7 linked regions of the Homo sapiens genome follow. The protein of the gene in region 2 purifies or fractionates together with the protein of the main gene of each other region. This does not show direct contact. Each region holds a gene or a part of one and is shown on either strand. Other genes may lie near its edges.

The links.
Region 1: the proteins of PSG1 (region 2) and CELSR3 purify together in Homo sapiens (affinity purification with mass spectrometry; 2 studies listed by BioGRID and IntAct, with this or other methods). This does not show direct contact.
Region 3: the proteins of PSG1 (region 2) and LRP12 purify together in Homo sapiens (affinity purification with mass spectrometry; 2 studies listed by BioGRID and IntAct, with this or other methods). This does not show direct contact.
Region 4: the proteins of PSG1 (region 2) and FAT3 purify together in Homo sapiens (affinity purification with mass spectrometry; 2 studies listed by BioGRID and IntAct, with this or other methods). This does not show direct contact.
Region 5: the proteins of PSG1 (region 2) and MANEA purify together in Homo sapiens (affinity purification with mass spectrometry, with the first as the bait; one large-scale study listed by BioGRID). This does not show direct contact.
Region 6: the proteins of PSG1 (region 2) and SDF2 purify together in Homo sapiens (affinity purification with mass spectrometry; 2 studies listed by BioGRID and IntAct, with this or other methods). This does not show direct contact.
Region 7: the proteins of PSG1 (region 2) and PCOLCE2 purify together in Homo sapiens (affinity purification with mass spectrometry; one large-scale study listed by BioGRID and IntAct). This does not show direct contact.

What each region holds. Positions count from the first base shown.
Region 1 is NC_000003.12:48,655,855-48,660,182, reverse strand, and holds part of CELSR3 (cadherin EGF LAG seven-pass G-type receptor 3 precursor), read left to right. Parts: coding exon 1-1,296; intron 1,297-2,834; coding exon 2,835-3,485; intron 3,486-3,817; coding exon 3,818-4,043; intron 4,044-4,328. UniProt on the Homo sapiens protein: Receptor that may have an important role in cell/cell signaling during nervous system formation.
Region 2 is NC_000019.10:42,876,708-42,881,798, forward strand, and holds the start of PSG1 (pregnancy-specific beta-1-glycoprotein 1 isoform 2 precursor), read right to left. Parts: upstream 3,007-5,091; 5' UTR 2,875-3,006; coding exon 2,811-2,874; intron 1,572-2,810; coding exon 1,206-1,571; intron 1-1,205.
Region 3 is NC_000008.11:104,582,420-104,586,747, forward strand, and holds part of LRP12 (low-density lipoprotein receptor-related protein 12 isoform a precursor), read right to left. Parts: intron 1-4,328. UniProt on the Homo sapiens protein: Probable receptor, which may be involved in the internalization of lipophilic molecules and/or signal transduction. May act as a tumor suppressor.
Region 4 is NC_000011.10:92,892,284-92,897,267, reverse strand, and holds the end of FAT3 (protocadherin Fat 3 isoform 1 precursor), read right to left. Parts: 3' UTR 795-4,984; downstream 1-794.
Region 5 is NC_000006.12:95,580,200-95,584,527, forward strand, and holds part of MANEA (glycoprotein endo-alpha-1,2-mannosidase), read left to right. Parts: intron 1-4,328.
Region 6 is NC_000017.11:28,655,219-28,659,546, forward strand, and holds part of SDF2 (stromal cell-derived factor 2 precursor), read right to left. Parts: intron 266-4,328; coding exon 69-265; intron 1-68.
Region 7 is NC_000003.12:142,819,689-142,823,371, reverse strand, and holds part of PCOLCE2 (procollagen C-endopeptidase enhancer 2 precursor), read left to right. Parts: intron 1-2,326; coding exon 2,327-2,494; intron 2,495-3,683. UniProt on the Homo sapiens protein: Binds to the C-terminal propeptide of types I and II procollagens and may enhance the cleavage of that propeptide by BMP1.

The sequences.
Region 1 (4,328 bases), on a different chromosome or scaffold from region 2:
CACTGGACTACAAGCAGGAACGCTACTTCAAGCTGGTACTAACTGCATCTGACCGTGCCCTTCATGATCACTGCTATGTGCACATCAACATCACAGATGCCAACACTCATCGGCCGGTCTTTCAAAGTGCCCACTACTCAGTGAGTGTGAATGAAGATCGGCCAATGGGTAGCACCATAGTGGTCATCAGTGCCTCTGATGATGACGTGGGTGAGAATGCTCGTATCACCTATCTCCTGGAGGACAACCTGCCCCAGTTCCGCATTGATGCAGACTCAGGAGCCATTACATTACAGGCCCCATTAGACTATGAGGACCAGGTGACCTACACCCTGGCTATCACAGCTCGGGACAATGGCATCCCACAGAAGGCAGACACTACTTATGTGGAGGTGATGGTCAATGACGTGAATGACAATGCTCCACAATTTGTGGCCTCCCACTATACAGGGCTGGTCTCTGAGGATGCCCCACCTTTCACCAGTGTCCTGCAGATCTCAGCCACTGACCGGGATGCTCATGCCAATGGCCGGGTCCAGTACACTTTCCAGAATGGTGAAGATGGGGATGGAGATTTTACCATTGAGCCCACCTCTGGAATTGTCCGTACAGTAAGGCGGCTAGACCGGGAGGCAGTATCAGTGTATGAGTTGACTGCCTACGCAGTGGACAGAGGTGTGCCCCCACTCCGGACTCCAGTCAGTATCCAGGTGATGGTGCAGGATGTGAACGACAATGCACCTGTCTTCCCAGCTGAGGAGTTTGAGGTGCGGGTGAAAGAGAATAGCATTGTGGGCTCAGTGGTGGCCCAGATCACTGCAGTGGACCCTGACGAAGGCCCCAATGCCCATATAATGTACCAGATCGTGGAGGGGAACATCCCTGAGCTGTTCCAAATGGACATCTTCTCTGGAGAACTGACGGCACTCATTGACCTAGACTATGAGGCTCGCCAAGAATATGTGATTGTGGTGCAGGCCACATCTGCTCCTTTGGTCAGCCGGGCCACTGTGCACGTCCGCCTGGTTGACCAGAATGACAACAGCCCTGTGCTCAACAACTTCCAGATCCTCTTCAACAACTATGTATCCAACCGTTCAGACACCTTCCCGTCGGGCATTATTGGGCGCATCCCAGCTTATGACCCCGATGTCTCCGACCACCTCTTCTACTCCTTTGAGCGTGGCAATGAGCTGCAGCTGCTGGTAGTCAACCAGACCAGTGGGGAGCTGCGACTCAGCCGAAAGCTAGACAATAACCGCCCACTGGTGGCCTCCATGTTGGTGACTGTCACAGGTGAGGGGCAGGGGGCAGGCAAGTGACCCAGTGACACCAACCTGTTGGGCCTCAGGGACTCCACAGGGCACCTCAAACCAAAGAGGGATTTCTAAGCCTTCCAAGAACCCCTTAAGGGTAGGGTTCCTGCACCCTACAAGATCTGCCACAGACCTCACAAGGACTCTGCTTAGGTTCCTGGATAATCTCCACAGAATCCCAGTGATTCCAAGGCATCTAGCAGACCCCATAAAGCCTGTAAAGAACTGTCTGCTACCTAGGGATATCTCCCCTCCTGATAAAAGGTCAGAGGTCCTGGGGTAATCCTCTGGAGGTCCTAGGCAAAGCCAGTATGGGCCAGTCAGTCCACACTATGCCCATGTTCAGACGAAGGGTTACTTTGGGTCCAGTCTGACGCTTACCCTATCTGTGCAGGAAATGACCAATACTTGAGTGGTCAGGAACAGCAGCTTACTATGGAAGCTTCAGGTGGACAGTGGCTTCGTAGGGCCTGAGACCCTGACCTTTGGGAAAATGTCCAGAGGTCCACTTGCCTCTTTCCTGCCCCATCTGCTCCAGTCTTTCAGAAACCCCTCCATAATAGGAGAGTGCAGGTGGGAGAGGCTCTTGAAGTTCTGCCTACTGGAGGCTGCAGAGGTTGGGAAATAGGCTTCACTGGTGCTCATTCCTCAGTTCTGGAGCAGGGACTCCTGGCACTGCCTGAGAAGGCACAACCTTCATTTATCCCTCAACTCACTCAACAGTCTATCCTTATTGACCACCCAGTATGTGCTAGGGTGTGGGGACAAGACGAACAAGGCAGCTAAGCACCTCACCTTCATCTCTGGGGTGGTCACTGTGAAACCACAGGACCCAGGTCTGGAGTGGCGAGCAGGCTGCTAACTCAAGAATGCTGGTGTGTGTGTGTGTGTGTGTATGTCAGGGTTCAAGACCCCCCTGGAGCTTGATAACCCAGGATTCTGGAGGATGGCATTGAGTCTTCACTGGGCCAGGGCCCCTTCTAGTGTCATGGAAGAGCAATTTGCTGACCAAAAATAGGAGATAGGTGATCCCTGATCTGGAACCCTTCTTTTCTGGAGGGGGATGTTTTGCTGGTTCTGCTATGCTGGAGGAGGGGAGAAGGGAAAGGTGGCTGGGAATGAGTGGCCAGTGGCCCTAGCTCCTCTCTGTGTCCTGAGTTGGGGTGGCCTGCTGACCATGATAACTTGGGGAAGTGTGGGTTACTGAGTACTTAGGGTACTTGAGTGCTGTTGCGGGAGTGACTTGCTAACCCATGGGCACTGTGTGGGGTTGCTTGATCCTTGGCCCAGACCCCTCCGTGTATTGGGGATTGGGGGAGGAAGCAGCAGCTTTTTGACACCTTGATGCTGGGGGAGCTGGTGGTCACTAGCCCCAGACTCCCTTGTGTCCTGGTGGGGTCAGCCTGCTGACTTAGAGGTTCTGGGGGCCTAGGCTATCGCTGGCCCCAGCCCTCTTGTGTCCCAGGGAGGGGTGGCCACTGTCCCCAGGATGACCACTGCCCCTGCCCCCGCCTGCAGATGGCCTGCACAGCGTGACGGCGCAGTGTGTGCTGCGCGTGGTCATCATCACGGAGGAGTTGCTGGCCAACAGCCTGACCGTGCGCCTTGAGAACATGTGGCAGGAGCGCTTCCTGTCACCGCTGCTGGGCCGCTTCCTCGAGGGCGTGGCTGCGGTGCTCGCTACGCCCGCTGAGGACGTCTTCATCTTCAACATCCAGAACGACACAGACGTAGGGGGCACCGTGCTCAATGTGAGTTTCTCGGCGCTAGCTCCACGTGGGGCCGGGGCGGGCGCTGCAGGGCCCTGGTTCAGCTCCGAGGAGCTGCAGGAGCAGTTGTACGTGCGCCGGGCGGCGCTGGCGGCTCGCTCCCTGCTCGACGTACTGCCCTTCGACGACAACGTGTGCCTGCGAGAGCCCTGTGAGAACTACATGAAATGCGTGTCCGTGCTCCGCTTTGACTCGTCCGCGCCCTTCCTGGCCTCGGCCTCCACGCTGTTCCGACCCATCCAGCCCATCGCTGGCCTGCGCTGCCGCTGCCCGCCCGGATTCACGGGAGACTTTTGCGAGACCGAGCTCGACCTCTGCTACTCCAACCCATGTCGCAACGGCGGAGCCTGCGCGCGGCGCGAGGGAGGCTACACGTGCGTCTGCCGCCCGCGCTTCACCGGTGAGCAGGGCGCCGGGCCAGAGCTGGGGGAAGCACGGGCCAAGGCTGGGGGCGGGACCACAATGCGAGTGAGTACTGGGAGTCACTTCTGAGGCCACGGCCTGGTATGGACGCGCTTAGGCCAGAAGCCGTAGAGCGTGGCCGGAAGGGGCCGCCGCCGAGGCAGCGATGAGACTGGGGAGGGGGCGGGGCCAGACGGAAGGGGCGTGTCCACCGAAGAGGGCGACCTTTCGGGGGTCTTGGCACCCGGCCTCTGGGCGCGCGGTCTTTGAAGGGGCCGGAGCAGGGGCGGGCGTGGGCGTGACCGCCTCTGACCGCGGCTTGGCCCCCAGGAGAGGACTGCGAGCTGGACACCGAGGCCGGCCGCTGCGTGCCGGGCGTCTGCCGCAACGGGGGCACCTGCACCGACGCGCCCAACGGCGGCTTTCGCTGCCAGTGCCCGGCAGGCGGCGCCTTCGAGGGCCCGCGCTGCGAGGTGGCTGCGCGCTCCTTCCCGCCCAGTTCGTTCGTCATGTTTCGCGGCCTGCGGCAGCGATTCCACCTTACGCTGTCCCTCTCGTAGGTGCCCGCCCCGTGTCTGAGCGCCTCCCCGCCGCCCCCACCTACCCGCCCTGACTCAGATTCCTGACTGCCCCGTCCTGGCATCCCCATGAGACACCGCCCCTCCCCTGACGCCCCGCCCGGGGTCTCCTGACCTCGCTGCACCCGCGTCCCCCCGGTCGGTCCCGCCGTCCCTCGTCGCTTCCTCTCTCGCCCCAGCCCCTTCTCCTCGCAGGGATGGTGGGTGTGAAGTGGTACCCTGCTCCTGACGCTCCCACCCCCGCAACCCCCTCCCACCCCGCC
Region 2 (5,091 bases):
AGGAGGCCTGGACATTTTTTTGCACTGACTCTGATGGTTGAAGCAGGTGATTTAGTTCTGGAGTGCAGACTAATCAGCTGACCATTTGCTCTCACTCCTCTGAGGTTTGGATGCCTAAGAAGAGAGGATTTGAGCCAACAAATGACTATGGGGTGCTTGGAACCCAGTAAGCCCTCACTTCTGGTGGAGTAGAGGATGGGCCTGTGGCTACAGACAGACCTCATGTGACCCTGATCTCCCCTTTGTGTTTGTGTGACTCTTGCTCAGTCACTGTGCCTTCCTGTGCCTCAGTTTTCTCTCAATCAAATAAGCTAAATGGCAAATGGACTGTGGCTTTTCATGCTATCTGTGAATAAATGTTAAATTATTCACAGTCACCTGACCTAATGCTTGGCACAGTGGAGGTTTCACACAAACAGCATTTATTATTAATTTGCTTCCATGAGAAAGCACCTTTACGTCAGATCCCTGTGGACAAGCTGCTACCTGGTACATCTTCTCTCTTCTGTTTCTGCTTCTGGGGACATTAGTCTTTCTATGGACTATCCTAAGCCTCCTAAGGCAGTTGGGTGATGGCCTACAAAGCTTGTCTTTCTGTCCTCTCCACTCTGAGTATCAGGTGAAGAAAGCTCTGTCCTGGCCCAGATGAGGCTCTGAGGGCTGAGCCCTGGCTGGTGAACAGCTCCAGGAGACACAGTCCTCTGACAGCTGGTAAATCCTTGGTCCCAGTAAGCCCTGCCCAAGAAGCCACAACCCAGTCCCAGCACAGGCTCCTCAGCTTTATCTGGAACAAGGATTTAGGGACAAGGGTCTGGGGTTGAGGCTTCTAGGGCTGAGCTTCTCTGAGAGTATCTCAGGGGGCCCCTCAGGCCAAGCCCTACTCAGTTATCCAGGGTCTTTCTCAGGGTCAAATTTATGAAGAGGGCATGAGGTGCTTGGCTGAGACTGATCTCCTCCTGCTGAGTCCCCCCATCAGACTGTCCTTCCTCTGCAGCGAGTGTCTGCAGGGTCTGGATGCAGGAAAGGAATTCTGATCTGTTGAAATTTGTCTCCTCTGTGTGTGTCCTGCACTAAATGCCCAAATCCCAGCATGGGACATAACGCAGTGAGTGACACAGGCAGAGTCCAGGCCTGACAATCCTGTGTGTGTGAAGTAGAAGTGACCCCTGTCCCCCAACACCCAGGGATCATGTGGAATCACTTACGGTGTAAGGTGAAGGTGAAACGTCCAGTTACTCCTCTAGTCCCATCATCTCCCTTTATGATGTGTAAGGTGTAGGATCCTGCGTCCTCCCGGGTGACATTCTGGATCAGCAGGGATGCATTGGAATATGCTGTTTCTCGTCCACTATATGCAGGCCCATATATAATTATTTCACCGTCTACTACATATGATGTAATGTAATGGTAGAGGTCCCTCATTTGCCCTTTGTACCAGATGTAGCCGGTAAGATTCTGGGGCAAATTGTGGACAAGTAGAAGAACATCCTTCCCCTCGGAAACTTTGGTTGGCTCGGCTTCAATCGTGACTTGGGCAGTGGTGGGCAGGTTCCAGAAGTTTAAAAGTGATGCTAGGAGGTGGAGAGAACATCAGTCAATATTGAGACCTATGTATTGGTGTGAAAACATGGGGCCCTGGGTCCTGAGAAGGTCTCTTCAGTCCTCAGCCTTGACAACACAGACACACACACACATACAAACACACACACACACACACACACAAAAGCGGCATGTGTGATTGTGTGTGTGTATGTGTGTGTGTCCTACTGTCCTACTAGGTCAAGGTCAGCAGCATGACGCCCATTCCTTCAACACTTCTGACGTTGGCATTTTTCTGTTTGGAATCCTCTTCCCCAGGGGTCCGCATGGCCCCCTCCACAATGCCCTCAGGTCCTGCTTACATCAGGGCATCGTTAGACTTCTTTCCTGATGCCTGCTTCAGAGACCCTGGGTCTTCCCTTTCTGACCTTTCCCTGCTCTGCTCCCTCCAGGGTTCTTGTCAACACCTGACCTCACATTCTAGATCTCTTTGCATGTCTGTCTTCCCCCCCATGACAGCGTGAGCTCCGTGAAGACAGGGACTTTTGTGATCTTGGTTGCACCCCAGTGCCTGGAACAGGCTGCAGACTCCTGTAGATGTGAGAGTTCTCAGGGCCCTCCATGCCCTGGGTGTTTTTTTTCCCCCAATTGTTGAGGTTTCTTGCTGAGGACAGTGTTTCCTGCCCTGTTTATATTTTTATTTGAGGTGTCATCTGCTATAGTTATTATTATCATTTTTCAAAATATGGTGGCCCCTGATGATTAATCAGGAAAACAGAACACTTAAGATTTTCCTACCTCTTACCAATTCCGGTCCAATACGACTTTCCTGTTTTGACCCCTGTCCCTCTCTGGTGTATTTTCCCCTATCCAGGCTCCAACAGAGCCTTCTTTCCTTTTTTTCTTTTTTCTTTTTTTTTTTTTGAGATGGAGTCTTGTACTGTCGCCCAGGCTGGCATGCGGTGGTGCTATCTCAGCTATCTGCAACTTCTGCCTCCCGGGTTCACGTGATTCTCCTGCCTCAGCCTCCCGAGTAGCTAGGATTATAGGAGCACACCACCATACCTGGTTAAATTTTTGTATTTTCAGTACAGACAGGGCTTCACTGTGTTGGCCAGACTGATCTTGAACTTCTGATCTCATGATCCACCCACCTCAGACTCCCAAAGTGCTGGCTTCTTTCATTTTTTAGAACCCCATCCTCTCCAGGAGACCCCATCCAGTCACTCTGCTTCCTCCTCCTGTCCTCTCCCAGGAAGTTCTCTCCTCACCTGTGAGCAGGAGCCCCTTCCATTTGATGCGCTGTGTGCAGGGAGGGGCTGAGAGGGTTCCCATGGTCTCTGCTGCTTGTGTGTTCTCCTCTGTGGAGATAAGCCTAGGATCCAGAAACTCTCTGAGCACGGCTGTCAGCTGTGCTGTCCTTCCTCTTTCTGTGCTGAGCCTCTTCCCAGGGCAGGAGCAATTCTCAAGCTCATGGGCAGGGTCAGGCCCAGGACACCTCTCTGTCCCCTCCTCTCTAAGTCCTGCCTCCTTGTCCCTCCTTCTGTTTCTCCTTTTGTCTGTGTTTCAGGTCCCTGGGAATTGTGGCGGCCTCTGCCTTTTTCAGCAGTGATTCTTTCACCAAACCTCAAGACACACTTTGTGCAGACACACAGACACACACACACACACACACACACACACACACAGAAGAGATACACACAGACCCACACAGTCAGACACATACCCTGCAGGTTGGGCAAGAACAGTCCTGGGCCTCAGCCTCCTGGTGTCCCCATGGCTCTGGGTCGGGGTGCAAATTAACGCCCTTTGGCCTCTTTCATCCCCATCAGGCTCTCCCCTTCAGTGCAGGAGGCTGGAGCTGTACCAGGTCCCTGTCAGAATGATGCCCCATTGTGCTGTGGGTGAGCTGTGTGTTGCCTGGTGAGAGGGACCCTTCCTTTCTCTAATCATGTCTAGCTTGGCTGCAGCTTCCAAGGATGGACATTCAGGACCTGGGTGTCCCAGAGGAAACTGTCCTTTCTGGCGGTGTGCAGGGTGAATCTCTCATGCCTCTTGGGAGGAGAGGCCTGTGCTGGTTGCTCAGTGGGGGCTGTGAGTCCCATAGTCAAAGGGACAGTTCTCTGTCAGTCTATGGCTCCCTGGGGTCTGGCGGCTGAGCTGGAGCTCATAGTTTCTCATGTTCTTCCTGACCATCTTTGATGTCCTCTCTTCTCTGCCCAGCTGACTGTCCTGTGGTCACCACACCTTCCCTGTGGTGGTGCAGGAGGAAGTGGGGAGTTACCCAGGAACCCTGCGGGACATGGCTCATTGAGATGCGGGAGGGGGAGCCTGGGACAGAGCAGGGGTTCAGAGCTGGAGAGATTCATCCCAACTTACTCCGTGGCCATGATGGGCTCAGCCCTCCATATGCTGACATACCCAGGGGTCTGTCCTGATGGTTTTGACCTGGCCAAGCTGCTGTGTGTAGAGGAGGAACAGGCAGTGGCCAGAGAGCCTGTCTGGAGGGACATTGCTCTCACCTGAGAGGGCGGGTGGGGGTGAGTTGTGTTCTGAGATCAAAGAGCAATAACATTCCCCTTCTTCCCGCAAGCACACAGGAGAGGTCTGTCTTCCCAAGGGACAGCTGGTGTTAGGTGGCCACATCCCGGATGGTGCCTGTGTGTGACCATCACACGCGCTCTGAGCCCCCAGGGTGCAGCGGGCAGGCAGGTCACAGGGTGCCTGGCTGATTCCCGGGGAGGCTGTGGGCCCTCAGGCAGCCGCTGTTCTGTGTCAGCGCTAGGCTTGGCCTGGGATGCCCCAGAGAACAGGACAGATGGAGCAGGGGTGGGCATTTAGGGAGCAGTGCCAGAAAGAGTTGATGAGGATGGAGGGAGGTCACGAGGGGAAAGCACCCGGTGTGGCATCGCGTGCACCAGCGCTGCCCTGGGAGATGCCTTTAGCTGGGCCCAGGGAAGGAGCAGGTGTGTGGGGAGGAGCTACCTGCAGGGGGAGTGGTGTTAGGTTGGCGGCCGCCAGGTCAGGGAGGAGCTGACAGTGTCCGTGTGGGGAGCATGGAGGGCGCTGAGGACTTGGGCAGAAGTGACCCTGTAGAGGGTGGACACTGCTGGGCTGTGGGTTCCGCTGAGTGAGGTTGGCATCCCCTGGGAAGACTCCAGGCTGGGAGGGACTCTGTCCCCCTCTGGTGGACAGGGAGGGAAGTGTGAACGGCAGCAATTCCAGGCCAGGATGCATGTTTTATTCCACGTGGATCTGCACAGTTCACACGAGGTCACACCTGTGTTATGTTACAGCCCCATCACCTTCCAGCCCCGTGAGTCCCAGTCTCTGTGGCTCTATGTTCACTGTTCTCCCTCTTTCACAATCAGATGTCCCAAATGCAGATTTTTGTCACCTTCTGTGAGTTTGTGTTTGTGTGCAGTAGGCGGCACTGTGTATACCCTGGGGGCAGTGATGTCTGGGGCTGAGCACTGCAGTTGGGCTTGGGAGCAGCAGGGTGGGAAGATCAATGTCAGGGGGGCAGGGACAAGTCATTTTCATTTTCTCACT
Region 3 (4,328 bases), on a different chromosome or scaffold from region 2:
CTGAAATTCACCAATCTTTTAATACATTCTTGCCTCTACCAAAGACAATCTGATTTCTAAAGCAATCTTTATTGATAGCTTAGCAGAAAGCATTTAACTTTGGCAAAAAGGTATTGGAAATCCAGCTTTTGCTCCACCCTTTGCTTCTTGCCTGAAATACACTTAAAACATTGTAAAAAGTTATGTTCTATACTTATTTCATTGACAAAATGACTGCCCTCAGAACTGAGTTCTCCACAGAACCCTTCTTAAGGTTCCTCCCCTTGTAATTTAAGTCCATCTCTTCCTGTCATCTGCTGTACAACTATTCATAATATATGTGCTTGTATAGTGTTCATAGCCTTCTCTATTCTAGATTAAATAACAGAAATCTAACTTGCTAAGCGTCCAAACCATTCTACTGAATTGAGGGAACAAAAATCACCCTCAACTTCTCATTCCTCCTCTTCACTGATGATCTTATGTCATATTACTTTGAGAAAATAAGAACGATCAGATGTAATGTCCACCTTCCCACCCCAAAACCTACAGACCTAAGTACACTTGCACCAATATTTTCTTCTTTACCTCTTACGGCAAGAGGAAAAATCCCCTTATCTCTATCAACAGGGCAACCTACACTCCTTTATCTCCACTACTACTACCTTGGTCCAAGCTCCTGTTATCTCTCACCTGGATTACAGCCAAAATCTCCTAACTGATCATCCCATCTCTACTGTTTCCCACTTCACAACAATACTCCACATAGTAGCAAATGTGACTGTTTCAAAACATAAATCACATTATGTCACTTAAATAGTTAAAATAAAACCCAAACTCTTTACCATGGATTCTAAATCCTAGAGTTTCTAAGTATTGCTCTAATCTCATCCTGTCACTCTCCCTTACAACCATTATGTTCCAGTTACAGTGTTTTTAGTAATTTATCTGCAACATACCAGCTCTTTCCTGATCCTGGGCCTTTCATGCATTGTTCTCATATGTAAAGCTTTCTTACCCAACCATAACACAGTTAGCTATGCTTTAGGTCTCATAAACGTCCCTTCATGAAAAAGTCTTCCCCTAATTACTCTGTGCCTGTTACTCACTATCTCTGCCCCATGTCTGTTTCTTTGAGAGCACTTATTACAACTTATTCATTAGACTATAAGCTCCATGAGGGCAGAAACTATGTGCATCAGGTTTTATCTAACACAGTGCTAGACATAAGCAAGGGCTCAATAAATATTTGCTAAATGAACTAAGTGAAGAGACAGCCAGGGTTAGGCTACAATCCTGACTCTACTACTTCATACTGGTTTGACTTCAGTTAAGTCACAATATTTCTGTGTTTCAATGTTCTCTTCCATAAAACAAAAGAAAGAGTACATATCTGACAGGATTGCCAAATAAGACCTACTAAAGATTAATTGGCAATAAATAAAGACTAATCACGCATCTTTCAATGTAAGTATTAAGTACTTGTAAGTAAATAAGTGCTATTAAACTTAATTTAATGTTAGTTTCCTTCCTTCCCTTCTATAACTTAGACAGTAAGAATTCCCTAAGCTAATACAGTATTGAAATAATATATTTATATATACTTAAAAAGAAGAGACTCTGATAACATGTATTTGAATAGATACATTGGTAATTTGTATTTGCAGGATCTAATCCTAAATTTTAGAAAATGGGAATAAATAATGTACATCTATTACTTAACTCTCTCAAAAAGCAGGGAGTGATAAGGAGAAAAGAAGAAAAACAGAAAAGAAAGGTAACCTTAGAAATTAGAGATCATCAACTTCCAATTCCTAAATTTAGAACAACCTTCCTCTTCTTATAAAGACTTGCAGTAAGAACAGGATTAATATCTAAAATAAAAATATTCTATGTTTACTTAAATCTATATAATTCTCACTTATATTTCATATATATTTTTACTGAACTTTCACCCCTTAAATTGTGGTATCACTGGTAAAGTGGGGAAAAAAAAAAGGAACAACATCTCATATCAGAAACACAAAAAGGCCCTCTTGTTCCCTTAATATTTTAATAAGCTTTAAATTTTCTAATTACAAAAGTAAATCTCAACATTTTCTTTAACTGCTGCTCACTTTTCAGGCTAAAATCCCTTTTATGTTCTTCAAAAGAAATTTTACTTTCTAGGAACCTTATAAATCATTTACCATACATCATTCAAATCTCCTCCATACTCTATCTAGAATACAGTTAACAGTGCTTGTTTAATACTTTCTGCCCTGATAACCACCTAGAATTTTGTGGAATGTGCTGCCCACCTTCATATTCTCCCAAGGATATGGATATAATTTAGATTCTGAACTCAAGGAAGGGTTTATGTTAAGCAATTAATTCAATTTTATTCAACACATTTTATGTAATCAAACTTGACTTTGTAAGAAGTAATTGGTATCTGGTTTAGATTTTTCCCTCATGTTCCAGTTACTTCTACAACCTTTCTAAAATTGGAATTTCTTGTCTACCCTTAAACCAGTTATTAAGTGCTACTGAACATTCCATAAAATTCATGGGAAAAGATTCATCCATTACATATATGCAAAGTAAAAAGATTATTTTAGGCTACCACAACATCTAGAATACTACTGTGAACAGTAAAGACTCTTGACTGTAATAAGCTGAAAACCAGTTTAAAAATGAATTTTATCACAAGTCAATCAGTATATGCTGTGAACAGTTCTACGACTATCAAATGCTCTGGCAGCAAGTAACCAAAAATTAACCATCTGCAACTCTTGAAGTTTATTGTAAAATGATATACAAACAAGAAACATTCTAAATTACATTTATTTATTTATTTATTTTTTGAGACAGAGTTTCACTCGTCACCCAGGCTAGAATACAATCGTGCAATCTTGGCTCACTGTAACCTCCACCTTCCTGGTTCAAGTGATTCTCCTGCCTCAGCCTCCTGAGTAGCTGGGATTACAGGCATGTACCAGCACACCTGGCTAATTTTTGTATTTTTAATAGAGACGGGGTTTCGCCATGTTGGCCAGGCTGGTCTCAAACTCCTGACTTCAGGAGACTCACCCGCCTCAGCCTCCCAAAGTGCTGGGATTACAGGCTTGAGTCACCACGCCTGGCCTCTAAACTATATTTTAAGGCTTCATCTTGGGTAGTGTTTTTCAAGCTAAGGACTGCAATTTATTAGTGGATCCAAAATTTATTTAATGAGTCCAGACCAGCAAATGAAGAAGGGAAGGGTGAGAAAGAGGAGGAATAAATAGAAAACATCTGAGTGCACAGGTAGTTAAGAGTACGATTTCATTAACTTTTTTCTCTATGTACATAGTACCCGAAGCAATGTGTATTTTAAGGGTGGGTTTGAGTAAAAGTTAGGAAACACTAATCTGGGAGACAAACAGAAGTGGAAAGGATAAAGCAACGGAACTGTCAGAATTACCAAATTGTGGTTTAGGAGGTGAGCAAGACTAACAGCTTCTATTGACTAGGAGACAGAGGTTTTGGAAACTCCCATAGATTTGTAAAAGCGAGACATCCCTATGTGAAAAATGACAAAGCACTTTTTCCTCTTACAGTAAGCCTAGGACAATGCGTAGCAAAGCTTGTGGTTGTCACCACTGATATTTTTATCCCTTCAAACTTTCAAAGGTGGCAGAGGTCAACCTTTACTCTCTCCTAACTCTTAGGCACATTGAATGCGGTTAAGATACAGTAGCCCCTGAAAGATAATTACAGGTCCTTGAACAACTACTTCTAGAAAACATTATATTCTAGATTACAATTTAGAGTTTCAGGTAAGACTCTGGCATTCAGAAAAGTTAATTTGGAAGTACAACAGTCACATATCAGAGCCCATAAAATCGTCATCTGGAAAGTAGCACCAAAATAAACAACAAAAAATTTTTTTATGTATGTGAAATGTTTCAAAAATCTGAAGCACACCTTAGAGTCATTTCATTTAAGAGTCACTCTGTGAAGAATTAATATTGGAGTTCCCTAAATATTGGCCAATCAACCTGCTTTTCTTTGTTAACAGTGATTGTGAATATTCAGTTTCATTAACAGAGCTAATTATTTTTGAAGCCTTTTAAAACACACACACACTTTTTACTGTATAGAGGACAGTTTCATAAATTACAGCTAGTATCTGTTCTAACAGGCTCAAGGCGACAGCTATTTCTCAGGATGCATCCACCACCCATTACAACTACTATATATTCTAAGTTACTCAATTCCCACTATTGTTATAGAACCACATCCACCCCATACTATTGTTACAGCCCTTTTTCACTATTATAAACCCACATATGGTTAGAGACAGAAGAGGACAAAAAACATGCAGC
Region 4 (4,984 bases), on a different chromosome or scaffold from region 2:
TATTTATTCAGTGGAAGTTGATCACTATAAAGTTCTTCATCATCGTCTTCACATTGAGTGGACAGAAGAGGAGGAGGAAAAGGAGTGGATGGTCTTGCTGTCTCGGGGGGGGGTGGGCAGAGGCAGAAGAAAATCTGCGCTTAAGTGTACCTGTGCAGTTCAAACCTCCCTTGCTCAAGGTCAGCTGTATCAATTTGAGCCCTACTCCCTGTCTGTAACCTCTTCTGTGTATATTTTAACAGACCTTCACTCCATATGGAACATTTTCGGGAGCTTTTTGGAGGAAAACTCAATTGTGCCCCAAACCTTTGGAAAACTTTTGGAAAAAACCTTATTTATTTATTTATTTATTTTTGAGGGAGAGGAGTGCTGGAGCTGCTGTCTAGAAGAGGTGGGGATGTGCTTAGATTTCCACAGATGTAGGACTCGATGATCTTTATTTGTTCAAGCCTCCAGCACTCTTTTCAATTTTCCCACCAGGGAAAAAATCTCACAAGGCGTGTGCTCAGTAAGAAGTTACATAAGATTTCAACATGTGTACCAGGACAGATAGAAGTTTTTCTGGAGGTAAAAAGTCTCAGGGGGTTGGGGAAGCCACACTAACACAACAAAACTAAAATGTCCCTGTCAGACCAGAGACCCCTCTCTTTGAGAGGTAGACTAGGGCTAAAGAGCTTTTTTGCTCTGTACCACGTCTTTCTACCATGCCCTGTGGAATACACCTCTAAATACCATGCGAGCAATGAACTAAAGACAAAGAAAAGGAAACACTTAAAAAGAGTCAACACAATTGCTAGTTTCATTTTTTTCTTTTTACTTGAAAACTTGTTTTAACCATCAAATTTTGGCAGTTACAAACCTGTACACTGTTGTGTTTTTTTTTGTTGTTGTTGTTTCTTTTTTTTGGCTGTCTTTTTTTTTGTTTGCTTTTGTTTTTTTTTTCTTTTCTTTTCTTTTTTTTTAGAAAAAGAACACAAGACTGAATACTGCCACCAGCAATATATGCAGGAACAATCCATTTCCTTAAGGGACAAAATCCACTCTAAGTGTTAGCTTTCCCCTTTGCATAAGGTTTGGTGTGTGATGTGTGTGCAAGTTGAGGTGAATGTGCATGTATATGAAGAAATGGCATACCTCATTGTGATTCTGAAATTGCATAAAAATAAAATACTTAATAACTGGGCAAAACACATTCTTTTTTACAAATGTCAATAAAGACAATTTTTCTTGAAAACAGAGAAAGTTAAATGAAAACAGTAAGAACCAAAGAAAGGTTACAGTACATTTTGAAATGAGTAAAAAACATCATTTTCAAATCTAAAATCCTTGTGTGTGTGTGTGTGTGTGTAGTTACCTCAAAAGTTTGCAGACCAACAGCGTGGATGACTTACAATTATATTCGACCCCCCAAATTAAAGCATCCTGATAGGCATCAAATATAGTATCTACAAAAGCCTGGAAAATTGAAACCATTTATATACAATTTTATAAACATTTCAAACACCAAAACATACATCTTTTACAAACCAGCCTGTTTGCAACAGGCAAACGTACAAGACAATCTCTCTGATACAGTGCTTAAAAAGAACTGCTTCCATTTCCAAACACATTTGCCACTCCCAAAATGCAGTAGTGTGGGCTCATAAGATTGTTAAATAGTAGCAATTCAGTTATTTGTTTGCCAGAAGGGTACTACAGTACATACTAATTGGTCCAAACACGCTCCAAATGACTCTACGATTCTCAAGTGCATTCTAAACACTAGAAGAGACTAATTATGGCCTTTGTGTATTATTACCTACTTGTAATTATTGCTTTTCATTATTACATAAGGAAAGAAATATCATATTCTTTTCCTATCTCTTAGCCAGCTGGCTAAATATTAATTGATGCCAAACCCACAAATGGTGACTTTAAACCCCAGCATTACACAACCAGAAGCTCAAAGACATTGTGGATTTTCATCAGAATAATGTGCAGTTGAACACTGTGGGACACAAACCAGCAAAAACATATAACCACCTTCTCACAGAGCACACAAAATGATGACAAGGAATAAATGCCTCTTCAAATCTCCATTTCCCATAGTTTGAAACTAAAAACATAAAACATTAAAGCCTAACCACTTTAGCAATACCTGTGCACTGGGAAGGCAGCGGAGTGAAGAGCCAATTATCTGGACAATCCATGCAAAATGAACACTAGATCTTCCTGAATTACTTCACATAAAACTGTTTTCTGGATTTTAATAATTTATTTTGATAATCTCTTTTCTCAATTCCCCTGACTTTGATGATGCAAACATAGCATCAGTGGGGGTAGTGGATAGGGTGGGGTGGGAAGTAAGTAGGAGAGGACTGATGGTAGATATGTTCAACTTGCTTTTTTTCCAGAATGTGCTAGTAATGTCCAAGGGAAGTTCCAGGCAAATCCCAGAAACTAGTTCCCTTTCCAGCCTTTCACATTTATTCCCTAATTGGATGAACCTCAAAGCATGGACCACCTACTCATGTTCCTAAGTCTTTTATATGGCATTTCATGAATAGGCAGGCCAAGGGTACATGGAAAGCTGGCATAGACTAGAATGCAGCAGCAAAATATTCATAGAGGAAAGGGAATAAATGAAGCATGCATTTTATTCACCTTTTATTACTCCCAAGTTCTTGCTTACTATATGACGAGCACCAAGAGTCTAGCTATTCTCAACCTAACCAGAATGTGTGCAATACTAGTAAAGTGCCTACAACAGATTATGGGAAATGGCTTCCAGGAGGTGGCACATACATGTTCGAAAAATGAGAAAGACATTAATTGATTTAAATAGTTTCCACATGGTTCATCATGGTGGAGGGGGTAGGACAAAGAGTAGCCAGTGTTTGTGGGAAGAAAAAAATGCAAAACCAAAACCAAAAATGCAACCAGTAGGTAACAGTATAATCAAAGTTTCACTACAACTGATGACTGGTCTGAGCTGAACTCTGTAATTATCATTTCATCCCTATTATACAAACATTCATTTGGCAAAAGCAGCATTTCGATGAATGTCTACAGAAATGTATGAATTCTATAACCCCTCTCCCTAGGGGGACTGCAAGGAAACATAAGATCATGAGGCTTTCAGAAAAATATTCTCCATGAATTTTCTTTTATAGCATATTCCAAAGAAGGAATGGTGGAAGTCAGAGGGTCCATCAGAACCAGGTGACTCCCATGCTCAAGGCAGTGTAGGGGTGAACAATATGATGTAAAAAGAATATTGGCTAGATGGATGGGTTCTACTCCTTGTTAAGCGAATTAACTTCCTCTGTGGGCTTGGGCAAGTCTCTTTCCCACTCTGGGTATGTTTCCTCTTTGATAAAATAAGGAGTTTGGACTAGCAAATAGGATTCTTCCAGCTTTTTTGAATTAGTGATCATCCCCACCTAGTAGCATCTTGGCCTGACTGCAAAGCATTTCATAATCTACAGAGAAATCTAACTTTCCAAAAAGTGAAGAGATATCATGTGTTTAAAGATAATAAATCAAAACACAATACATGCTTGCCTGGTATATATTTAGCTGCAGAGCTATTCTGCAGAAAATCAGGGGATGATATCCCAAAGAAAGAGATATTTTATATAGGTCACAGCAAAGGGTGGGCACAATTTTCTTCAGTGGCTTCATGACTGCATTAGGATCTATTTATTCTTTCATTACTGTGTCAGTCAGGCATTCTCCCTCAAAGAGATGCTGTGTAAGCAGTAGGGACTCATCAGCATTAATCTCATTCTAATATTTCCTGGGGGCAGGAAATGACATGTTGGTTTTACTTTGATGGTTTTTATGTCATTGCATTACTTAAAGTGTAGCAGTCACTCTATTCTAGGCCATTAGTTTGTCATTTTTTTCCATGATTCTTGCAAATGTGCTTCTTACATAAGAAAAATACCAAAGACTTTGTTCTCGAAAGCAGCCTTAGTGAAATTCATTTATTTCAAGATCACAGTGTGGATAATACCTCCATGAGTAGGTCTGACCAAGAGACAGGAAGAGAAAGGCTGGAAAACTTGTGAAGTGTAGTGTATCCACTTACTTAGAAAGTTTGGGAATGAAAAAGGATTTTTTTTTTTGCATAAACATTCAGAAACACTGACTCATAAAAAAGAAGTGGATTAAACGCAATTGAAATAACTAAAAATATGTCTGAGTGAATAATGCACAGACTAGGGACAGTACAATTTACACACCAATGCCATATGTCATCAGAAACTGTGGACACAGATTTGCTCATTAAGCAGATAGTGCAAATATGCATATATTTACCATGGCCACTGCACAGGCGGCCGTAATCTGATTGAAGCAAAAAAGGAAAGTCCCTCAACCTGTCAACTTTCAGTTTTGAGGACTGGATTGTTATATTTCCAGTGGAATGATTCTCCTGTTAATTTTGGAAATCATGGCCAAAGCCCACAGATGAGAAGGGAATCCCAGGGTGTAATCAAACATTACACACTTTTAAAACAGAGGTAAGTTCTGGAAAATTATAACAAAATACTGTTTTTAAAAAGCACAGTTTTGGGCTGGGCACGGTGGCTCATGCCTGTAATCCCAGCACTTTGGGAGGCCACGGCAGGTGGATTACGAGGTCAGGAGTTTGAGACCAGCCTGGCCAACATGGTGAAACCCCATCTCTACTAAAAATACAAAAAATTAGCCAGGCGTGGTGGCACACACCTGTAACCCCAGCAACCTGGGAGGCTGAGGCAGGAGAATCGCTTGAACCCAGGAGGTGGAGATTGCAGTGAGCTGAGATCATGCCATTGCACTCTAGCCTGGGTGACAGAGCAAGACTCTGTCTTGAGAAAAAAAAAAAAAAGCACAATTTTGCTTTATTGGCAGTACCAAAATAAAGTTAACTGAACCAGAGTAAAATATGGCATTTGATGTTTCTCTAACACCATAGAGATCAGAGAAATTGAAAGGTATGCCATGCTCGCCGGCAGAA
Region 5 (4,328 bases), on a different chromosome or scaffold from region 2:
ACACACACACACAGATATACATATATATATATACACACACACTGCCTGAATACCAATGAAACAGCAAAGAGCCAGAAATTAACTTTTTTAAAGCTGAACACTTAATGAACACTATGTGAAAGATATGTTATGCTCTACTAGAATGTGAAGATAAAGACTCCATTTCTGAAACTTAAGGAGCAATCTAGTAGGTGATATAAAGATAAATGCACAGCATGATATAATACATAAGGAATGACAATTTGGCCGGGCACGGTGGCTCACACCTGTAATCCCAGCACTTTGGGAGGCAGAGGCGGGTGGATCACGAGGTCAGGAGATCGAGACCATCCTGGCTAACACGGTGAAACCCCATCTCTACTAAAAATACAAAAAATTAGCCAGGCGTGGTGGCAGGCACCTGTAGTCCCAGCTACTCGGGAGGCTGAAGCAGGAGAATGGCATGAACCCTGGAGGCGGAGCTTGCAGTGAGCGGAGATAGTGCCACTGCACTCCAGCCTGGGCAACAGAGTGAGACGCCGTCTCAAAAAAAAAAAAAAAAAAGAAATGACAATTTAAAAAGTAAATACTGTTAACAATAAAATATATGAGGAATAAGTACTTTTCACTGTGGAATTAGGAGAGGTATCAAGAAGAGGCAGCATTTCAACTTTGACTTGAAGGTGACTGGTATTTCAATAGTTGGTCATATAGAGAATAGGCATTTAGAATAAAATGTGTTATATTTTAATTGCTTGTCGGACACCCATCTTTAATCATCATCATAAACAATTGCTCATTTATTTAGTCTTATACTAAGCCACATGATTTTGAGAGTTTTACAATATTAACTAATTTCATCCTCACAAAAATCCTATGAGTGAAGTAATAACTCATTCTATGGGTGAGGAAAGGAACTCAGAAAGATCAGGTCAGTTTTGTAGGTCAGATAACTAAAAAATGGCACAGCTGGAATTTGAGCTCAAGCATTTGAACTACAGAGCTCATATTTTAAATCTCAATGCCCATCTGTGTTTATTTAGGTTGAGATGACTTAATTGAGACATGGAGGTTGAGCCAGAGCCAGCAGATCATCTCTTAAAATTGAGCTTGTGTGTCATCTATAATGATGTGATAAACACACATTTTAATTGAATGAATGAAGTAATGTAAAATGAGAAGACAGAGGATCAGCTTAAGAAATTACATTCATAGGCAAGAGAGAGAGAAAAAAAAACAGCTTCCATAAATGGACATTTTGTGCTTTGTATTCATGAGTGTATCCAGAAAATGAACCTAAGAAATTTTTTAGAGTTTCCAATATTTCTTCACTTTTCATTTATTTATAAATTCATTAGTATTTACTGTTTGATTAAAACATTACTGTTTCAAATTGTCTTGCATGATTCACAGAATAGTTTTATCAGTAGGCAAAACAGATACCCTCTTTTTTAAGAAAAGGCTAAGTGATTTACCCAGGATCACACAACTAAGTGTGACTGATTTGAATTTACATCTTAAGATTTATTATATATCTTGATCTTTCATGAATCTCGCCATTCAGCTGAAGTCAACGTTTCAAAAATGAATGCCTTACTAATTTATAAATCTGTTAGTTATTTCTCCTTTCTCTGTAACTCTTCCAACATTCATTACCATTGTTTTTTTCCTTATAGAATACCTATCCAAATGTTTTCCTTCTGAAGTATTATGTTCTACTTTTAGAAAACAGAGTAAGAAAATATCACTGTTGTCTCATCCAGACATAACTATTTTACATGTTTAAGTATATTTCCTTCTATGTGTATCTTTAATACAGATATGATATTATATATCATAGTAGTTGATATATTACATCCAAAATATTATTTTTGCTTCATGTCTCATCAAAATTTTCCCTTTCTTCAATCAAAGGGAAATGTTTGTTGTGATGTCAATGATTTGAAAATTTCAGGACAACAAATTACAGTGGCATGCCAAAATGGTTGTATCATCTTTTTTTTTTTTTTTTTTTTTTTTTTTTGAGACGGAGTCTTGCTCTGTCGCCGAGGCTGGAGTGCAGTGGCGCGATCTCTGCTCACTACAAGCTCTGCCTCCCAGGTTCACACCATTCTCCTGCCTCAGCCTCCCGAGTAGCTGGGACTACAGGTGCCCACCACCATGCCTGGCTAATTTTTTGTATTTTTAGTAGAGATGGAGTTTCACCGTGTTAGGCAGGATGGTCTTGATCTCCTGACCTCGTGATCTGCCTGCCTCAGCCTCCCAAAGTGCTGGGATTACAGGCGTGAGCCACCACGCCCAGCCCATCCTTTTATACCTGTTAGTGCAACAGGACTGCCACAGCTCACATGTAGAAATTTCACTTCACAGAGTCATGTAGTGCAGGGTTTGAAAGACTTTGTGACTTAGCCCTTTCCAGAAATAAGCAGGTATGTTAACAGCTCACATTCTTCTATTTACTGCTGGGATAAATAGCACAAACAATTTCTGTTTACTTTTCCTGCATATTCACCATATGGTAATATTTTACCATATTTGCTTACCATTATACACAAACACACATACCCTTACTTATTATACGTTGCATTGTATGTAAGCCATACATTTTATATATAGTGTATGTATGTGGTGTACATATATGTATGAATATGTGTGTATTTATGTATATGTGTGTATCCTCTCTTTAATATATTGTCTCATGGTTCCTCGTGATTAGATCTGGATTAATTTTTAACAAGAGTACCACAGCAGTGATTCTGTGTTTTTCTCAGTACGGGTTCGCTGAAGACTAATGGCCATACTTATTTATCCAAATTAACTGATAAAGTCAATTTTGATCACTAGTTTAAATTGGTGTTTTGGTAGGTTTTCCACTGTTATTATTTCCCCATTTGTAATTAATTAGATATCTTCTGGAGGAACATTTTGTCAGTATGTATATAGTTATTAAAACAAAATCTCCAGACCTGTCTACCTATTCCTTTACTAAAAGTTCATTTACATAGCTTTTTATTAGAGAGGGAGGGAACTGATGTGATGGAATGCAGGGATGGGTAAGAGTTAGGATACCAGGTAAAGTGTCAGAAAAGATTTAGTAATTAATATTGTTTCCCAAGAGTTTTATAAATTTAAATACATTTAATTATGTATATATAATCATACATATTTATATCTAAATATATATGACATGTATCCATATATAACATAAGATGCACAATATGTAAATACACATATATGTGCATGTATGTGTACATATGCACATACACACGTTTATGTATGTACCTGCATGCCTTGATATATTTACAGTATGCATATCGTATATACAGTATACATATATACATATATGACGTATATATGTACACACACCATATTTACTTAAAGTTTGAAACAGACAAAATACAGTTAACTTTAGTTAGATATGCTTGTGTGCGGTGGGAAAACTATAAAGAAAGAAGAGGTGAAATGGTAAACACAAAATTCAAGCAGTTGCCCTTAGGCAGGGAGAAGGGCAGGACTGGTGATTCAGAGGGAGCACGAGAAGTGGAAAGGAGCTTTTAAGCTGGCAGATTTCTTTTTGAATGTTTACTTTATATGTTTTAAACTAGACATGTCTTTTATACTATTCTTTTATGTTATTCTTTATATTATTCACTATTCACAATTAAACAAGATTAACCTTAAAAATAATTCTTATGATTTTAGCTGTTAAAGAAATATACTTGGTTAGTTTAGTGTTTCTTAAATACATGTAGAATAGTGTTGTGGGAAGTCAGGGACCCCGAACGGAGGGACTGACTGGAGCTGCAGCAGAGGAACATAAATTGTGAAGATTTCATGGACATTTATCACTTCCCTAAGAATACTCTTATAATTTCTTATGCCTGTCTTACTTTAATCTCTTAATCCTCTTATCTTCGTAAACTGAGGATGTACGTCACCTCAGGACCACTATAATTGTGTTAACTGTACAAATTGATTGTAAAACGTGTGTTTGAACAATATGAAATCAGTGCACCTTGAAAAAGAACAGAGTAACAGCGATTTTTAAGACAGCGATAAAGTCTGACTGCCTGTGGGGTCGGGCAAAAAGAGCCATATTTTTCTTCTTGCAGAGAGCCTATAAATGGACGTGCAAGTAGGAGAGGTATCACTAAATTCTTTTCCTAGCAAGGAACATTAATATTAAGACCCTAGGAAAAGAATTGCATTCCTCGGGGGAGGTCTATAAGCGGCCGCTCTGGGAGTGTCTGTCCTATGCGGTTGAGATAAGGACTGAGATACGCCCTGGTCTCCTCCAGTACCCCACCCTGGTGAATTTGAGGTCAGACTGGTTCTCTGCTCTCGAACCC
Region 6 (4,328 bases), on a different chromosome or scaffold from region 2:
ACCAAGAGATCAAACAAGCACCCACTGAGTAATGCAGAGCAGCAACAATCCATCGAAAGCCACCTCACCTGGTTTCCAGAAAGAGGTGAAGTGAAGTGGTGACTATGGAGGTTTCGGCCAGTGTTGACATGTGTCAGCCGGATGGGCTGGCCACACTTGATGGGGGTTCCCCTCTCACACACTGTGGCACTCTTCCCCCGTATCCTCCAGTAACTGTTGCTGTCATCCACAGAGGTTACACCTGTCACTGACTGCTGCCCACTACCTGCAGTTAAGAAAAGAAAGGCAACTCTCTTTCTCTGCCATGGACAACATGCTCAGAGACAGAAGCTTGAGTGCGCTCAAGATTCACCTTCACCTGTAACCCACCACCATGACCAAGGAAGACACGCTGCTGGAGGTGTAATGGATATTAATACTGCTCTACAAGAGACTGAAGACCGCCCTCAGCCATGATGGCCTAGCAGGTGGAACCTGCAAAGCTGCCAAAGCCTTAGACAAGGGCCAAGCCCATCTTTGCGTGCTTGCATCCAAATGTGAAGAGCCTATGTATGTCAAGCTAGGGGTGGCCCTTTGTGCCGAACACCAAATCAACCCAATTAAGGTTGATGACCTTAAGAAACCAGAGACATGGCTAAGCCTTTGTAAAACTGATAGACAAGGAAAACTTTGTAAAGTGGTTGGTTGCAGTTGTGTCACAGTGAAGGGCTACAGCAAAGAATTTCAGGCCAAGGATGTGACTGTGTACTTCAAATGCAAGAAATTAACAAATAAATTTGGTACCCATTCCTCAAAAAAAAAAACAGCAAGTGAGCTCAGCCTCACCCTTCTTGCCTATGGCCAATATTGTGCCGTGTCATTAAACAGGTAAGAAGGGGTGGGGAGAAAAATGCTATGCTTGGCAATATTTTTTCTTCTACAACATTAAAATATTTATAAAAAATACAAATCATACTGGGCGTGGTGGCTCACGCTTGTAATCCCAGCACTCTGGGAGTGAAACTTGACCTCCCAAAGTGCTGGGATTGATGGTGAGCCACTGTGCCCAGCCTTTTTCTTCTTTTAAATAAAAAAAAAATTTTTTAGGCTGGGTGTGGTGGCTCACACCTGTAATCCTAGCACTTTTTGGGAGGCTGAGGCAGTTGGATTGCTTGAGCCCAGGAATTCAAGACCAGCCTGGGCAACATGGCAAAAACCCATCTTTACTAAAAATACAAAAATTAGCTGGGTGTGGTGGTGGCAGCCTGTAATCCCAGCTATCTGGGAGGCTGAGGTGGGAGAATCGCTTGAACCCGGGAGGTGGAGGTTGCAATGAGCCAAGATCGCGCCACTGCCCTCCAGCCTGGATGACAGAGCCAGACTCCGTCTCAAAAAAAATAAATAAATAAACTGTGTCCACGTAATACTAGTTACTATATGATAAAGTATACTTAAGGGTATGTCATATCAGAAAATTCTAAGAATTTGCATCAAAGGATATCCAAGGCACAAATCTATGTGAGTTTTTTGAGGCACAGGCAGTGGTAACCTATACACACTAGCCTGGATAGCCCCTAATGTGTCTAATCACATAATTTTAACATGTTTGTAATATTATTCATGTTCATTAACTATTATGATAAAAATTTTTGTATTTCACAATTAAAATGAGACTATGTTGCCAACTTTAAGCAGCCATTACAGCTCCCAACTCCCATAAGTGGTCAATTATTATAAACGTATTATTTAAGCAAGGCACGGTGGCTCACGCCTGTAATCCCAGCACTTTGGGAGGCTGAGGCAGGCAGAACACAAAGTCATGAGTTCGAGACCAGCCTGGCCAATATGGTGAAACCCCGTCTCTACTAAAAATATAAAAATTAGCTGGGCGTGGTCGCATGTGCCTGTAATCCCAGCTACTTGGGAGGCTGAGGCAGAAGAATTGCTTGCATCCGGGAGGCGGAGGTTGCAGTGAGCCGAGATCACACCACCGCACTCCAGCCTAGGTGGCAGGGCAAGACTCTGTCTCAAAACAAAAACAAAAACAAAACAAAAAATGTATCCTTGGAGGTCTGGCACAGTGGCTCATGCCTGTAATCCAAGCGCTTTGGGAAGGTGAGGGGAGGATCCCTTGAGTCCAGGAGTTCGAGACTAGCCTCAGCAACATAGCAAAATGCAGTCTCTAAACGTACATATATATATATGTATTTTTTTTTTTTGATACAGGATCCCTCTTGTCACTCAGGCTGGAGTGCAGTGGCACGATCACAGCTCGCCACAGCCTTGACCTCCCAGGCTCGGGTGATCCTCCTACCTCAGCCTCCCAAGTAGCTGGGATTTCAGGCGCCTGCCACCACACCTGGCTAATTTTTCTATTTTTTGTAGAGATGGGTTTTTGCCATGTTGCCCAGGCTACTCTCGAATTCCTGGGCTCAAGCAATCCAACTGCCTCAGCCTCCCAAAGTGCTAGGATTACAGATGTGAGCCACCACACCCAGCCTAAAAAAAAATTTTTATATTTAAAAGAAAAAAAAGAAGCTGGGCACAGTGGCTCACCGTCAATCCCAGCACTTTGGGAGGTCAAGGTGGGCAGATCGCTTGAGCCCAGGAATTCAAGACCAAGCCTAAGCAACTGACAAAACTCCATCTCTACAAAAGATGCAAAAAATTAATCAGGTGTGGTGGGGTGCACTTGTAGTCCCAGCTACTCAGGACGCTGAGATGTGAGGATTGCTTGAGCCCAGGAGGTCAAGGCTGCAATGAGTCGTAATTGTGTCACTGCCAGTTACACGGGTAAATGTAGCCAACTATCAGCTCCTTTCATGACTTTATTATATCTTTTTTCAGAAAAGGCAAACCAAGTCTCCCTTCCTACTTCTGGTTACTGCCTTACAGCTCTCTGGGTCCTCACAGCCACGCTTCACTAAACCATGGTCTACATTTTGTCTCCTACATTTTCTGCTTTCTATTCAACCGTTCACTTCTTCCTCCAAATCCTTATACCTTGGGATTATCCAAAGTTCTATGCCTGGCCTTCATCTGTTTCTACCTGTAGTTTTTTTTTTTTTTTTTAGTATTTATTGTTCATTCTTGGGTGTTTCTCGGAGAGGGGGATGTGGCAGGGTCACAGGATAATAGTGGAGAGAAGGTCAGCAGATAAACATGTGAACAAAGGTCTCTGGTTTTCCTAGGCAGAGGTCCCTGCGGCCTTCCGCAGTGTTTGTGTCCCTGGGTACTTGAGATTAGGGAGTGGTGATGACTCTTAACGAGCATGCTGCCTTCAAGTATCTGTTTAACAAAGCACATCTTGCACCACCCTTAATCCATTTAACCCTGAGTTGACACAGCACACGTTTCAGAGAGCACGGGGTTGGGGGTAAGGTTATAGATTAACAGCATCCCAAAGCTGAAGAATTTTTCTTAGTACAGAACAAAATGGAGTCTCCTATGTCTACTTCTTTCTACACAGACACAGTAACAATCTGATCTCTCTTTCTTTTCCCCACATTTCCCCCTTTTCTTTTCGACAAAACCGCCATCGTCATCATGGCCCATTCTCGATGGTCGCTGTCTCTTCGGTGCTGTTGGGTACACCTGCAGAAAGGCTGTCACTTCACACTTGGAAGACTGCACAGCGGCCAGGCAGAGGCGCTCCTCACTTCCCAGACGGGGCGGCCGGGCAGAGGCACTCCTCACTTCCCAGACAGGGTGGCCGGGCAGAGGAGCTCCTCACTTAACAGACTGGGTGGCCGGGCAGAGGCGCTCCTCACATCCCAGACGATGGGAGGCCGGACAGAGGCGCTCCTCCCCTCCCAGACGGGGCGGCCGTGCAGAGGCGCTCCTCACTTCCTAGATGGGACAGCCAGGCAGAGGTGCTCCTCAACTCCCAGACGAAGGGCGGCCGGGCAGAGGCGCTCCTCACATCCCAGACAATGGGCGGCCGGGCAGAGGCGCTCCTCACTTCCCAGACAGGGTGGCGGCCGGGCAGAGGCGCTCCTCACATCCCAGACGGGGTGGCGGCCAGGCAGAGGCGCTCCCCACTTCCCAGACGGGGCGGCTGGGCAGAGGCGCTCCCCACTTCCCAGACGGGGCAGCCGGGCAGAGGCGCTCCCCACTTCCCAGACAGGGCGGCCGGGCAGAGGCGCTCCCCACTTCCCAGACGGGGCAGCCGGGCAGAGGCGCTCCCCACTTCCCAGATGGGGTGGCGGCCGGGCAGAGGCGCTCCTCACATCCCAGACAGGGCGGCCAGGTGCTCCCCACTTCCCAGATGGGGTGGCCGGGCAGAGGTGCTCCTCACCTCCCAGATAATGGGCAGCCCACTTCCCAGATGGGGTGGCAGCCGGGCAAAG
Region 7 (3,683 bases), on a different chromosome or scaffold from region 2:
TTTCACCACTGAGAAAAATATGGATTTAGAAAATATACTTTTTTCATATAAGCTTAATAATTTGACTCTTGGTACATGATACTGCCACATTGTGTGTTCTGGCTGACTATTCCTGCAAAAAACCTATGTACTTTTTTCCTTATATATTTTTCATATACAGAGTATTTTTTCACACATCTATAACTCAACTTAAGTAAATTAGAAACATACCCGAGCTTATATTCAGAAGCTGGTCTCTCTCAGAAGAAATTCAAGTATTTCCCCTGTACTGCCTTTCTGAGGTACTGAAGTAAAAGTTGGAAATCTGGAGTCCATTTGGAAACTCTCACAAACTGGAACCTGAGGAGGTGTTCTTTAATGATTTAGAATTTTTAAGAGCTTTTTCCAGTGGAAAGATTGCACCATCTATGATAGCTACTTAAGAGCAAAAGATACAACATTTTATCTTGGTTATTTTTTCAGTGGCTTTAAAGGAACATTTAAGACAAATCTGATCAGGAAGAGCAAGTTGCTATGGCCTAAATACATTTCCCCAAACAAAACTTCCCCAGAGAGGCTCTGCTTGCTTTTTCTGTGCCTTGAAGTGACTTCTGTAGTCCAGACGAGCTGTATCATAGTGAAGGTGTGAAGACACTGAAGACTCTGGGACCCTAAACCTTACTAGAGTTCACATGCTGAAATTCAAATAACTGGCATAAATGTGAAAACAACGCCACATGTAATTGCTACCACATCCAGTTTACTCTTCTGTAGGAGGTGCTTCAGGAAGTCTCCCTCCCTGTGTCTTGGGAGCCACTGATTTCACTTGACTATAGACTGAATTTTGGAGTGAACACTTATCACGCAGGATCAAAGTAAAGCATCATAGGAATTCTGATTTTATGAACATTGCACACTGCCTAAGCAGTGAGTGTTCACTTTATTCTGAAGGAGTCAGATTAACCAAGTCCAAAACTTGATTTATTCCATTAATGTGACCGCTTACATGGCAAAATGACCAAAACTATCATCAGTCACTGGTTCTCAACCAGGGCTGATAATGCTCCCCTGGGGAGTGGTAGAGATGTTAGATTACTGCATTTTTTTGGTTGTCACAATAACTAGGAACTGCTACTGATTTTTCTAGGAAGGACAAGGCTGGTAAAAAATGTATTCAGGCCAGGTTCAGTGGCTCACACCTGTAATCCCAGTACTTTGGAGGCCGAGGCAGGTGGATCACCTGAGGTTGGGAGTTCGAGACCAGCCTGACAAACATGGAGAAACCCCATCTCTACTAAAAATACAAAATTAGCTGGGTGTGGTGGTGCATGCCTGTAATCCCAGCTACTTGGGAGGCTGAGGCAGGAGAATTGCTTGAACCTGGGAGGTGGAGGTTGCAGTGAGCTGAGATTGTGCCACTGCAGTCCAGCCTGGGCAACAAGAGCGAAACTCCATCTCATGAAAAAACAACAACAACAAAAAAAAACTGTATTCAGTGCAAGTCCTACACCACAAGGAACTGTCCTTGCTCAAGCCCCCAGAATGCCAGGCGCACCCCCGTGAGAAAGACAACATCTTTCCTTCTGTGGCTTCAAAGAGAGACTCTTTTCTCGGAGTGTCATGATGGAAAAAACAGGGGTTTACATAATGAAAAAATCAACTGAATTTTACTAGAGGTTTTTTTTTAAGAAAAAAAAAAGTTTAAGTTAATACCTCAGTTCTATACTTCAGCTTGTTAAATGAAATAAACGGAGTGGATAAGAAAGAGAATATGAAAGACCGTAGAAGACAGAGCTTTCCTGATAATTAGACAGAGGTGAGGACCCAGGGAATGAACAAAAGTTCAGGAAGAAAGGACAGCTACAGAGAAGGGTGAGGAGAGACACAGAAAGGTGGCTACACACCCACACCGACACAAAGACTCACATCTTAGTGGCCCAAACCCCCATCGCGCAATCTTTTAGCGTGGTACTGCCTCTAAAGATACAAGATCTTTTTGAGTATTCACAGGTAGAGCCTCATAAGCCAGACTATCCCCTATGTGACAATCAAGCCACAAGTTGGATAAAACGTTTTAAAGAGTTTCAACCTTGGCAATGGACCGCAGTGTGGCAAGTATTTAGGCTTCTCTTCTAGTTATCAATCCCCAACAACCAGCGTAACATCACAGCTCCAACCTGAATTTTGGTGACAAATGTACAGAAGCAAATGTGAAACCTCTATGAGGGCCTTTTCTTTAACATTAAAATGTTTCGTATCTGAAACTTAGAAGAATGTAAACTTGTTTTTCAGTTCTGCTTGCATTTGCCTTCACTGTCACATCACTTCAAAATGTTTTCTTCTGCAGTATTAGCCGGCACTGTTATCACAACCATCACTCGCGATGGGAGTTTGCACGCCACAGTCTCGATCATCAACATCTACAAAGAGGGAAATTTGGCGATTCAGCAGGCGGGCAAGAACATGAGTGCCAGGCTGACTGTCGTCTGCAAGCAGTGCCCTCTCCTCAGAAGAGGTGAGTAGGGAGAAAACTGGGTGTCTCTGAGCAAGCCATGGATTTTCCATGCCATGGTTGGTCTAGGGAAGTAAAATCAGGGCTAATATGTTGCCCACTTCTTGCAGAGCAGGAAGGCCTTTGGAGTCAGGCAGAATTGGGCTCTCATCCAAGTCCTTGTAACTTGTGGCAGAAGAAGGGGTAGTGGACATGATGAACAAGTGAAAGAAGCGTTTGAAGTTGAGTCAATAGGCAACAGACACACAGAGCAGTGCAGGGTGGAGAGATTTTAGACTATTGCACTTAAGATGCCAGTACTGTCTAGGTTTAAAGAAAAATATCCAGCAGCCAACAGGAAATGCAGACCCGAAGTTCAGAAGAGGGAGGTATATCCGGGCTAGAATCAAGATCTGGGAATCATTTGCAGAGATAGGACTATTAAGTCCATGGATGGGAGTGAGTTTATTGAAAGAAATTACGAAAAACGGAAAGTTACTCCAGAGCTAGAGGCACATGACTTTTTAAGAATATGTATTTAACAACTTATAAAAGTAACATATGTTTCATGGTTTTTAAAAAGTTGAAATAAGTAGGTAAGAGTATGTTTAAAAGTGAAACCCTTTTCCTTTCCTTAGAAGTACTCTAAAAAGTTCCTTCCAGCCAGACACAGTAGCTCATGCCTGTAATCCCAGCACTTTGGGAGGCCGAGGTGGGAGGATTGCTTGAGCCCAGAAGTTCGAGATCAGGCTGGGTGATGTAGTGAGACCCTATTTCTATAAAAAAAAAAAAAATTTAAGTTCCTTCCAGAAAGTTTCTATCCACATAAAGCATGGGCATATACACTTATGGAATCATATCACACACAAGTTCTGCAATTTTTCCCCTACATAAGCTCTAACATCTTTCCACACATACACACAGAGAGAGAGAGAGAGAAAGAGAGAGAAAGATACAGAATATCCACTTCAAGAAAGCTTTACTGTCCCAGCACTTTAGGAGGCTGAGATGGGAGGATTGCTTCAGCCTGAGTTCGAGACCAGCCTGGGCAACATAGTGAGACCTCTGCTCTACTAAAAATAAAAAAATTTAGCCGGGTGTGGTGGTGCGCACCTGTGGTCCCAGCTACTCGTGAGGCTGAAGCAAGAGGATGCCTTGAACCTAAGAGGTCGAGTCTGCAGTGAGTCATGATCACACTGCTGCACTCCAGCCT